Linked DNA regions of Homo sapiens: region 2 is linked to region 1. The links come from fine-mapping of genetic effects on gene expression. A gene starts in region 1. The other region holds a variant in brackets. All regions are shown on one strand. Distances are from middle to middle.

Region 1 (5,370 bases):
TCATAGTTGCATAATATTACATCATTTGGATGATACACTATTTAGCCAATCCCCTACTGTTGGGCATTTAGATTAGTTACAATTTTTCACCGCTATAAACAATGCTGTGGTGGGCATCCCTGTGGCTAATTCTTTGCTCTGTTGAATTTTGTAAGATAAGCTTTGAGAAGTGAAATTGCTAGGTTAATTGTAAGGCTTTGAGTCTGTACTAGGGGACTCCAATGTGACTGCTCTTTGAAAAGTCAGGGCTCCACCTTCAGCAAGCCAGGCCTCCTCATAGAGAAACTGTACCAAACAAAAATTCTGCCTCTGGCTTGGCTCTGCAAAGTGTGCCTTACTCTAAGCCTCATCTGGACAGCCAGAGCCTTTCAGAGAGTCACATTTCATCACTGTTTTATGGTGGGGACAGGTTCCTCTGGGCCTAACATGACCACTCCTACCCAGTTACCTGGAACTCATCCTCTGGGCACCAATATGCTGAAAATGAAGTTTATTCAGTCTCATTCATGTTTGCCACATGTGTCCCCACATAACCATGAAAGAGGAGCAGAGAGGGGAAGAATTCTTTGGGGAGCATCCTCTCCAGTTGGGACAGTCAGTGACCTCTTTCTCTTGCCTCAAAGAAAGTAGGGCATGCAGGAAGTGGGAGGAAGCTGGATGGGAAGAAGAAGGAGGCAAGCGGGAGCGAGGTGGTGACCAGAGGGGCTGACCCCAACTTTTCTCCCATCTGCTTCATCACAGAGAGAAGTCTCAGCTGCTACCAGAACCTGGTCAGGGGCCAGCGCCTACCCTCTGAGTAGGGAGACCACCACCCATGGCCCAAGCTGAGGGCCTGACCTGGGGCACCAGGGGAGGCTGGGACAAGATGGAGGATGGAGCCCAGATAGGAGAGGAGCTGGCTGAGCCACAGGGAGAAGCCAGCAGGGGCTGCAGCTCCTGCTTCTGGAGCCTGAGGGAGAGAGAGAGAGGACGCCTGGGGCATGGTGAGTCGGGCGCTCTCCTCGTGCCCTGGCTGCCTCCATGCCAGGGGCCTCTGCGAGCTGAAACATGAAAGGTCTTTGGATCAGAGAGGAGCTGGGAGCCTGCTTGCCCTGCAGCTGGAAAGAAACTTGAATTGTTCAAGTTCTCTCACTTTTCCCTGAAGACTGATTCCCCATTTTCCCCTTTTGCTATTATTTTTAAGAGCCTTGCTGCTCTCCAGGCAAATTCTCAGGTTCTCTGCCCGTCTGCAGCATGTATGCATATGCGTGTGTGTGTGCGTGCGTGTGTGCGCGTGCGTGCGTGGGCGTGTGCGCGTGTGTGGGCGTGCGCGTGTGCGTGTGCGCGTGTGTGCGTGTGCGCGTACGCGTGTGTGCGTGTATGTGTGTGTTGGGGGAGGCTGCGGTGCCTATGACTGGTTGCCCCCTTGAACCCCACCAGAAGCCAGCCCAGGCCCCTCTGCGCCCTCTTCTGAGTCTCCAGGGCCGGTTCTCTCCTGGCAACTCCAGAAAGTGCCTCCTCACCTCAAAAGACCAAGAAACAGGGTTTCTGATAAAGTGTCCCACCCAGTCCCGGCTGGGGCAGTTGGTTAGAGAATGAGGGGACATTGGGGGGAAGAGGAGGGAGAATGAGGGGATGGGAAGAGAGGCGCAGAGAAAATGAGAGGTGGAGAGAAAGGGACAGAGTGAAAGAGAAGGAGAAAGGGGAGAAGCCGGGAAGACAATGAGAATGGAAGCGAGAGATGGAAGTGGAAAGAAGAACTGGAAGCCTAGAGACAGAGGGAGAGAGGGAGAGAGGGAGGGGGAGAGAGAGAGAGAGAGAGAGAGAACGGGAATGAGCAGCTGTGATGTGGCCAGATCAGTTCATAGAAAAGAAACACAGTTCAGAGCAGAAGGGAGGAAAGAAAATAAGAAGGAAAGAAACAGAGAATGAGATGCAGAGAGGAGAGGAGGGAGAGAGAGAAGGAAACCGAGGTGGGTAGAAAAATGTGACGAAAGGGAAGGACAGAAAAAAAAATGAGAGAAGTAAGACAGAATAAAGGAGAAAAAGAAGAAGGGAATCATGAGGATGGTGAGAAAAGACAGGAGAGAAAGCCGGGAGAGAGGATAGAGGGGCGTTCTCGCTGCGCTGCGTGTCAGCTCTGGTAAGCCGTCTAGCATGTCATTAGTGGGGACCTGAGGCGCCAGCGGGAAAGTCCCCTCCCCGTGGGCTGGAGGCTGAGGGAGGGCGGGCCCTGGGCTGGGATCCACAGGCAGGTGGCCGCCCCTGGGTGGGGCCGCCCGGCCAAGCCCTAGGGGTATAAGTGGGAGGCCGGGCCTGCTGAGCACCTGTCAGGGGCAGCTCCGGGGTGCAGGTGCCAGGCAGGTGGCTCCGGCCAGCCCAGCCCCAGCATGAGCTCCTTCGACCTGCCGGCGCCCTCCCCACCTCGCTGCAGCCCCCAGTTCCCCAGCATCGGCCAGGAGCCCCCCGAGATGAACCTCTACTATGAGAACTTCTTCCACCCACAGGGCGTGCCCAGCCCTCAGCGGCCCTCCTTCGAGGGGGGCGGCGAGTATGGGGCCACCCCCAACCCCTACCTCTGGTTCAACGGGCCCACCATGACCCCGCCACCCTACCTGCCCGGCCCCAACGCCAGCCCCTTCCTGCCCCAGGCCTATGGAGTGCAGAGGCCGCTGCTGCCCAGCGTGTCGGGGCTTGGGGGGAGCGACCTGGGCTGGCTGCCCATCCCCTCGCAGGAGGAGCTGATGAAGCTGGTGCGGCCACCCTATTCCTACTCGGCTCTCATCGCCATGGCCATCCACGGGGCACCCGACAAGCGCCTCACTCTCAGCCAGATCTACCAGTACGTGGCCGACAACTTCCCCTTCTACAACAAGAGCAAGGCCGGCTGGCAGAACTCCATCCGCCACAACCTGTCGCTCAACGACTGCTTCAAGAAGGTGCCCCGCGACGAGGACGACCCGGGTAAGGAGGCTTTGAGTGTGGGGGGTGTCCCCAAGGAAGACTCACTTCCTTCCTCCCCAAGACCCCATTCTAGAAAGTTCTGACTAGGGCTGTGCCCCCCAAGACTGGGGGATGCTACCAGGCAGGACAGAGGGGAGCTCAGCAGTGAAGGAGAGCATGGGCCTGGGGGAAGATTTGGGTTTCAGCCCTGGCTGTGCTCCTGCCCAGTCAGTGACCTCTGGCAGGTTAGACCTCAGAGCCTCAGTTCCCTCATCGGAAAACCAGGGATAGTGACAGCATCTGCTTTGCAGGCTGCAGTGGAGGTGATGAGATAATGTACACAAGGTTTTAGGTGTTATCAAGCGCTTAATCGCCTGCAGTAATTACGATTCATCTGCATCTCCAGCACCCAGCACATAGAAAGTCTTTGGTGAATGAATGACTGGACCAACCAAAGCCCAAGGGCATCCCAAGACTGCCAGGAAGAGGATCTGACCTGGGTTAAACAGCCACTAATGGCCCATTTTGCTGCCTGCCTTGTTTCTACTTAGGTAACCTCCTTTAACCCGAAGACACCCCTGCAGGGTAGCTCTTATGAAACCCATTCTACAGATTAGGAAAATAACACTCAGAGGTGACACAGAATGAAGTGATAGTGATGGAGCTTGAATTTGAACTCAGTTTTCTCTAACATCAGAAATTGTGAGCTTTTCCTTTTCAACGATGCATTTCTAAAACTCAGAGACCTGCAGAGAGGCATGTATTAAATACTCATGCATCCATTTCCCAGAATTAAAGTCCACTTTTGTTCCACCGCAGGAAGCCAAGGTATAGCTCAAAGGAACCCCAACTCTGCCCCATTTGAGGGTGGCAAACACCAGGCCTGTTTGTCCCCAGAAGAGGGCAAGTGTCCTGTCCAAGGACTGCCATCACCCTCAGGCTGAGAGACGGTAGCAGGAAGAGTTCAGGCCTTCCCTCGGGAAGGTACCTCCCAGCTGCAACGCTCCTTTCCATATCCGGTGTGGATCCTTTCTCAGTGGGCCTGAGGAAGACAGGGGCAATGGGCCCACTTTTCAGACTAGAAAACAGGTTCTTCCAAAGCCCCTCAGTCAGTGAGGAGCAAAGCCAGGACTCAAGTCTGTCTTCAGACTCCAAGCCTACGGCTATTAGGGAGTCCCAGAGTTTTCCTGAGTCTTCTTTTCCTTCAGCATTGAAAGCCCTCCAACCCCCAACCCCCAAATCCCTCAGCATCCCTGCTCCCAGTTCTTCATCCTTCTTAAAGAGACCTACATTGCAAACTCCTTAATGCTCATGCCTCTCGGCTGCAGTCCCAAAGGGCCCTGTCATGGGCTGCTTAATTAAAGATGGAGGTGGTGTGGTTCATCAGTTGATGGAATTCCTCCATTTCTCAGTCCCTGCCTGTCGGTCTCTGTCTTCCTGCATCTGTCACCTTGGCTTTTAGTTTATGACAATAAGGAGGAACAGAAGCAAAGCATTTTGTCCACCTCTCTATTTACCCCCTTTCACTTTTGTATCAGGCAAAGGGAATTACTGGACCCTGGACCCCAACTGTGAGAAAATGTTCGACAATGGAAATTTCCGCAGGAAAAGGAAGAGAAAATCAGATGTTTCCTCTAGCACAGCCTCCTTGGCCTTAGAGAAGACAGAGAGCAGTCTCCCGGTGGACAGCCCCAAGACCACGGAGCCTCAGGACATCTTGGATGGAGCCTCACCAGGGGGCACCACCAGCTCCCCAGAGAAGCGGCCCTCCCCTCCCCCATCAGGCGCCCCTTGCCTTAACAGCTTCCTTTCCTCTATGACAGCCTATGTGAGCGGGGGGAGCCCCACGAGCCACCCCTTGGTCACACCAGGACTGAGCCCTGAGCCCAGTGACAAGACGGGGCAGAACTCACTGACCTTCAACTCCTTCTCCCCGCTCACCAACCTCAGCAACCACAGCGGTGGGGGTGACTGGGCGAACCCCATGCCCACCAACATGCTCAGCTATGGAGGATCTGTGCTCAGCCAATTCAGCCCTCACTTCTACAACAGTGTCAACACCAGTGGTGTCCTCTACCCCAGGGAGGGCACCGAGGTCTAGGTACAGAACAGCTCCTGAGCCAGGTGGACATGCCAGAGAGAAAAGCAGTAGAGGTCCTCCATGCCAGCCCCACGGTGGTCCATGACTGCGGAACTGCCCAGACATAAGCAGGAGCCTCCGAGGAATCCACCCTCTTTCTAGAACACTGGTTAAGGCTTCTGTTTATCACACATAGGCCCACACACAGACTCACCAACTTTGCAATAGAAATACTGGTGCCTGCAGAGCAGCACTAACAGTGGCAGGTGCTGTACTAGGCTCTGTACTGGCCACACTTACTATTGACAGTCACCCCGTAAGGTTCACAAACCACCCCATTGAACAGATGAGGAACTGAGGCTCAAGGA
Region 2 (5,370 bases), 72 kb after region 1:
CACTGTGGCCTTAGGGGGCATAGGGCTGAGCTGAGAAGACATTTTAGAAATGGAAGCCTATAACAAAGTTTCAGCTGCGGTAACGAGCATCGGGCAGGTAAGAGAGGCAGAGCTTAAAATTTGGAGAAAGAGCTTGCCCTCAGTCTTCCTCCCCCACTTCCTCTCTCCCTTCTACCATCATTCCTTCCCTTCTTTCTCATTCATTCCCTCATTCATTCATTCATTCATTCACTTGTGTGATAAATATTTAGTGAGCACCTGCTGCATTCCAGGCATCTGGCAGGGCTTTGAGTGGCAAACAAACAAGACACGGTCCCTCTCCTATTAATGTGAACAGACAGGTGAGAAATAACACAACATTGACACACGTGAGGGGTGGTTAAGACTTTCTACCTCAGTTCTCTGAACCTGGAAGTTCCTAGAAGGCAAGGGTGGGTGTGTGACAAGGCCCTATCTATACCTTAACCCAGGCCTGCCGCTTTTCCCAGCACAGTGGTTCAGGTGTGGACTCTGGAGATAAAGGGCCTGGGTTCAAATCTTGGCCTAATCACTAGCAGGTGTGGTCGACCACTCTGCGGCCCTCTTCCTTCGCTTATAAAATGGGAATGATTTGGTATCAACCTCACGGAATTGTGGTGAGCACTAAAGAGACGATGCCAGTCAAATGGTGGCTGTGGCTGGAGGGTGAGTATGAGGGCTTTTTCTGGAGTGCTGGCGGTATTCTGCTTTTTGATCTGGGTGCTAATTTCACAGGCGTGCTTGGGGTGTGAACATTCATTGAGCTGCACAATTATGATATGCACACTTTTCTGAAAGTATGTTATACTTCAATGACAAGTTTTGAAAGCCTTAGTCCGATGCCTCTTGTTGAGCTCTGCTAACAACAATGAATGTTATTAATTGTCAGGGTCCTACGGCCATGCTCCCGAGAGATGCTGCACCAGAATCTTCCGAGTCCAGGAGCTTGCTGCTCTCTGGAGCCCTGGAAGGGCAGATTATATTGGGGAAACTGAGGCATTGAGACCCAGAGGCTCAAGGTCATGGGGCTCAGTAGGAGCCAAGTCACCCAGAGCCCAGCAGCACCCTCCCCTTTTACCTCCCTCCTGCCGGCAGCTAGCAGGGGTGTGGGGGCCCATTAAATCCTAGGCAAATGGGCTCTGGGCGCGTGCAGCCCTCAGGTCCCAGGACAGCTCAAACAGGACTGGACTGCCTGGTGCCCCATGGCAGCCGCCCCCTGGCCTCTAAATGATGGTGTGGAGCACTTGGCTGTTTGCAGGGTAAACAGGAGGGCTGGAGCAATGGGAGGCAGGTGTGCTCCACTGCCAAAGCAAAACAGAGCCAGTGCAGGGTTCCCGCACACCCTGGGGGGCCGCTGAGGGCCAGCGGTTGCTATCAGGGTGAACACCAGTTGTCAGTAGAAAAGGAGGCTTTGCTTCATCCACCTCCAGCAAGTTCTTGCACAGTTCATCCTGGCAGCCTCTGGCCTGAGTGAGATAGCAGGGTAAGGTTAACCCTCACCTCCCCAGCACAGAAAGGACTGCAGAAAGCCCCGAGAGCCTCAGGCTGCCTCCACCTCTGTCTCTGCAGTGCCTGGTACAGTTCTTGGCTTCCTGACCAGGAGGCAGCATGGGGAGATAAATACACACAAAGCCAGAATGCGTGGGTTCAAGTCCCGGCTCTCCTGTTCACATTTGTATGACCTGGGGCCAGCTATCTAAACTCATTCCTAATTGCAGCTGCTGTGAATATTGAACACCCAATAACTTAAATAGCTAAACAGCTCAAGTAGGTGAGTCTTGTCTTAGCCAGTTCCCAGTGAATGTCATAATGTGGGCCTAACACTGCCAGATTTGTAGATTTCTCTGGAGACACACAAAACCTAGATTCCTATGTACAATCTCCTGATTTGTAAATGTTGGCAGCTAACCAGAAAACACCCCGTGGCCTATAAAAAACAAGTCTGGCAATTGGGTTTGACCAGTGGCCCTAGTTGTGGACCACAGATCTAATCACATCCTCAGCTCGTTAATGAGAAGACTGAGGACCAGGAAGGAAAAGTGATTTGCCCAACCTGGCACAGTACTGACTGCCAAGACACCAAAACACGCATTGTGGGTTAGGGCATCATGTATGTACACAGCAACTCCTCAAGGTAGGTTGTATAATCCCCACGAAAACTCAGAGGGGTCGAGCAATTTGCCAAAGGTCACCCATTGGCAAGTTCCCAGCCTGGATTCAAATTCCAGGATAAGTCACACTGTCTCCTTAGCACTGAAAAAACTGGAACCCACACCTGTTTCCTGCCCCGTGAGGATGGCACTGCTGTCATGAGACCCACTGTGCCACATCATGGAGAGCAGCCACTGCTCCTGCCTGCTCACCTGAACTGTCTCCCAAATGCCCAGAGAGGACACCTTAACCCTTGCAAGACAAGAAAGAGTGTCGGGCTGTCTTTCTTAGAAAAGTCTTTATTATTAAGCAATATATAAATATTTTGTCATTATAAAAAAATCAAGTGACAGAAAAGATAAAGAGTTTGTCTCTAATTCCACTCCCTTCTTAGGTGCAATACTATTATTAGTGGTAATGCCACCTCCTTATAGACCCCCCACATCTTTTTTTTTTGCAGTTCTGCTCTTGTTGCCAAGGCTGGAGTGCAATGGCACAATCTTGACTCACTGCAGCCTCCACCTCCCAGGTTCAAGCGATGCTCCCGCCTCAGCCTCCAAAGTAGCTGGGATTATAGAGGCTTCCACCACCACACCTGGCTGATGTTTTTTTTTTTTTGTTTTTTTTTTTTTTGGTATTTTTAGTAGAGATGGGGTTTTACCATGTTGGCCAGGCTGGTCTCGAACTCCTGGCCTCAGGTGATCCGCCCACCTCAGCCCCCCAAAGTGCTGGGATTACAGGCATGAGCCACCGTGAGTGGCCCTTATGGACCCTTCCTTTGGAAAGCTCTCAAAGTTGCCCCAGGAGCTGGCTGAGGGCCTGGGCCGGTCTGAGACACAGGGCGGCTGAGCCGGCCATCACTGGGCAAGACAAGCCCTCTGGCCAAGAGCATTTCCCAAGAAGCCAATGACCATAGAAGGCCTTCAAGAGGTTGCGAGAGCTGCGTAGATAACACC[C/T]GAGGATCAGGAAGTAAGAAGTCCCAAGGCGGTGCTTCCCATTGCGGCTAGGTCAGAACCACCAGCCCCAGGCAGAGGGAGGTGTCTCTAGTTCTTTCTCAGGCCTTCAGGTAGTATCAAGCTGAAAAGTCTTGAGAGCTGCTAGGATGTCTCAATGCCTCTGCAACTCTTGCTCTCTCATTTTAACAAGCAGAGGGCAGGCCTGCTAAGTCATAGCACTTCTGCAAGCCGCAATGCCTAGCTATAATTGAGTGGCTTTGTTCTGTTTTTATCATCTTCATTTTACAGTAGCCTTCTATTTATGGCCATGCTGGTTGTCCATTTATAACCAGTGATAGAGATTTCCTCTTAGAAATAAAGTTTGAGGGTTTTTTCGGTTTAAATTAAAATAGTAAATAAATAATGTTTCAGGTGATAGACAGAAATGACAACAATCATTCTGTTGGGAAGGAGATGGCTGGATTCTGGCACACGCTGTCTTAGATAGATGAGACGGCCTTCTTTTTTTTTTTTTTTTTTTTTTTGGACCGAGTCTCACTCTGTCGCCCAGGCTAGAGTGCAGTGGCGTGATCTCATCTCACTGCCAGCTCCGCCACCCGGGTTCACGCCATTCTTCTGCCTCAGCCTCCTGAGTAGCTGGGACCACAGGCGCCTGCCACCATGACCAGCTAATTTTTTGTATTGAGGATGGCCTTCTTAACAAAGCCCTGAAAGAGGTTGTCCAGCCACCCTGGAGGCACGCGGCGTCAGGCCTGAACTGCACAGTGGCTGGATTTACGAGGAATGAGCAGCAGTAAGCCCAGGAGAATGTGAAACCAAAATGCCCTGTGATGACCCAGACAAGACCAGAGTCACTCCTGGAATCTCCATAAAGTCGGTCAGGGCAAACTCGAGGACACAGAGTGAGTCTCTCAGCCTCCCTCTTCATGGATCTGTTGTTTCTCAGCAAGACCTGGGGACTGACATCAGTCTGGTGTAGTGCAAAGAGCCCTGGACCAGAGTTCCAAGGCCTCAGTTCCAGGGTCAGGGCTGTTGTAATGAACAGCTCTGTCCTCCTGGGGGTTGAAAGGGCAGGTGGTACAGTTAAGACTGTGTGCGTTCAAAATCCTTCTCTTCACTTTCTGAGTTTGTTTCTTTCCTCAAATTACTTACCTTCTTGTGCCTCAATTTCCTCATTTATAAAATGGGAATAATAATGGTTCCCATCCTTGGGTCCTTGTAAGGATTAATTAAAATAAATCATTTGAAGTACTCAGCAGAGGGTCAGCAAGGAACAAAGCTAAGACTCAATGGATATGAGCTGTCATCACTACGTTTATGATGATCATGAGTGTTTTACTAAACAGAAGTCTGCTCATATCAGGGGACTTTGAAACCTTTCTACTCTGTCTTGATGCTCCAAGATTCCTATATTCGCATCCAGCTCAGCTTTTGGCTATGGAACCTTAGGCAAGATGTTCATAAACCCTTTAATCTCTAGTGCCCTTGTTCATAAAAAGAAGTGAATCGGATCCCTGCAGGACTGTTTTTGTATTCAGTGCACAGGTGTGTGTGAAGACACCCAGCATGTTGCCAGGCACACAGAGATGTCTACCTTGATACTTTTCTCTCCTCCTCCCCGCAAATACACACACACACACACACACACACACACACACACACTCACACACTCTTATTTTGATCTCGGCCTGAGGCTGACAAGCCCCAGATTAGTGATCAGTGACAATTTCGGCTTTATCAGCTCCACTCAGGGGTATTTGCATATTGGTAGAGAATCTGGAACAGGAAAACACCTCCTGTCTCAAAAGAGTGAATTGCAAATGGTAGGATTATCAGATTTCATTCATTTACTCATTTCATTCACTGAGGACTTGTTTGTGAAGTGGCCTTCTAACAACTTCATTTCATTACAAAAAAAAATGATGTATGTGTTTAGAAAAAAGTGAACAATTCAGAGACAAAAAATACATTCAATAGACCCTTTTTTTTTTCTTTTTGAGACAGAGTCTCGCTCTGTTGCCCAGCCTGGAGTGCGGTGGCACAATCTTGGCTCACCGCAAGCTCCGCCTCCCGGGTTCATGCCATTCTCCTACTTCAGCCTCCCAAGTAGCTGGGACTACAGGCGCCCGCCACCACGCCCGGCTAATTTTTTGTGTTTTTAGTAGATACGGGGTTTCACTGTGTTAGCCAGGATGGTCTTGATCTCCTGACCTCGTGATCTGCCCGCCTCAGCCTCCCAAAGTGC

The links.
Region 2: its variant is fine-mapped to the expression of FOXI1 in whole blood (TOPMed, PIP 0.95).

Annotation. Positions count from the first base shown.
Region 1 is chr5:170,103,589-170,108,958 of GRCh38, forward strand. FOXI1 (forkhead box I1) reads left to right here and starts at 2,309. Exons shown (of 2, transcript NM_012188.5): 1 at 2,309-2,943; 2 at 4,461-5,370. The coding sequence starts at 2,370. The coding sequence ends at 5,023.
Region 2 is chr5:170,175,873-170,181,242 of GRCh38, forward strand. No RefSeq gene overlaps it. Among named protein-coding and RNA genes, the nearest start is that of LINC01187, 21 kb to the right of the region's middle. The variant C/T (reference allele first, on the strand shown) is at 3,126.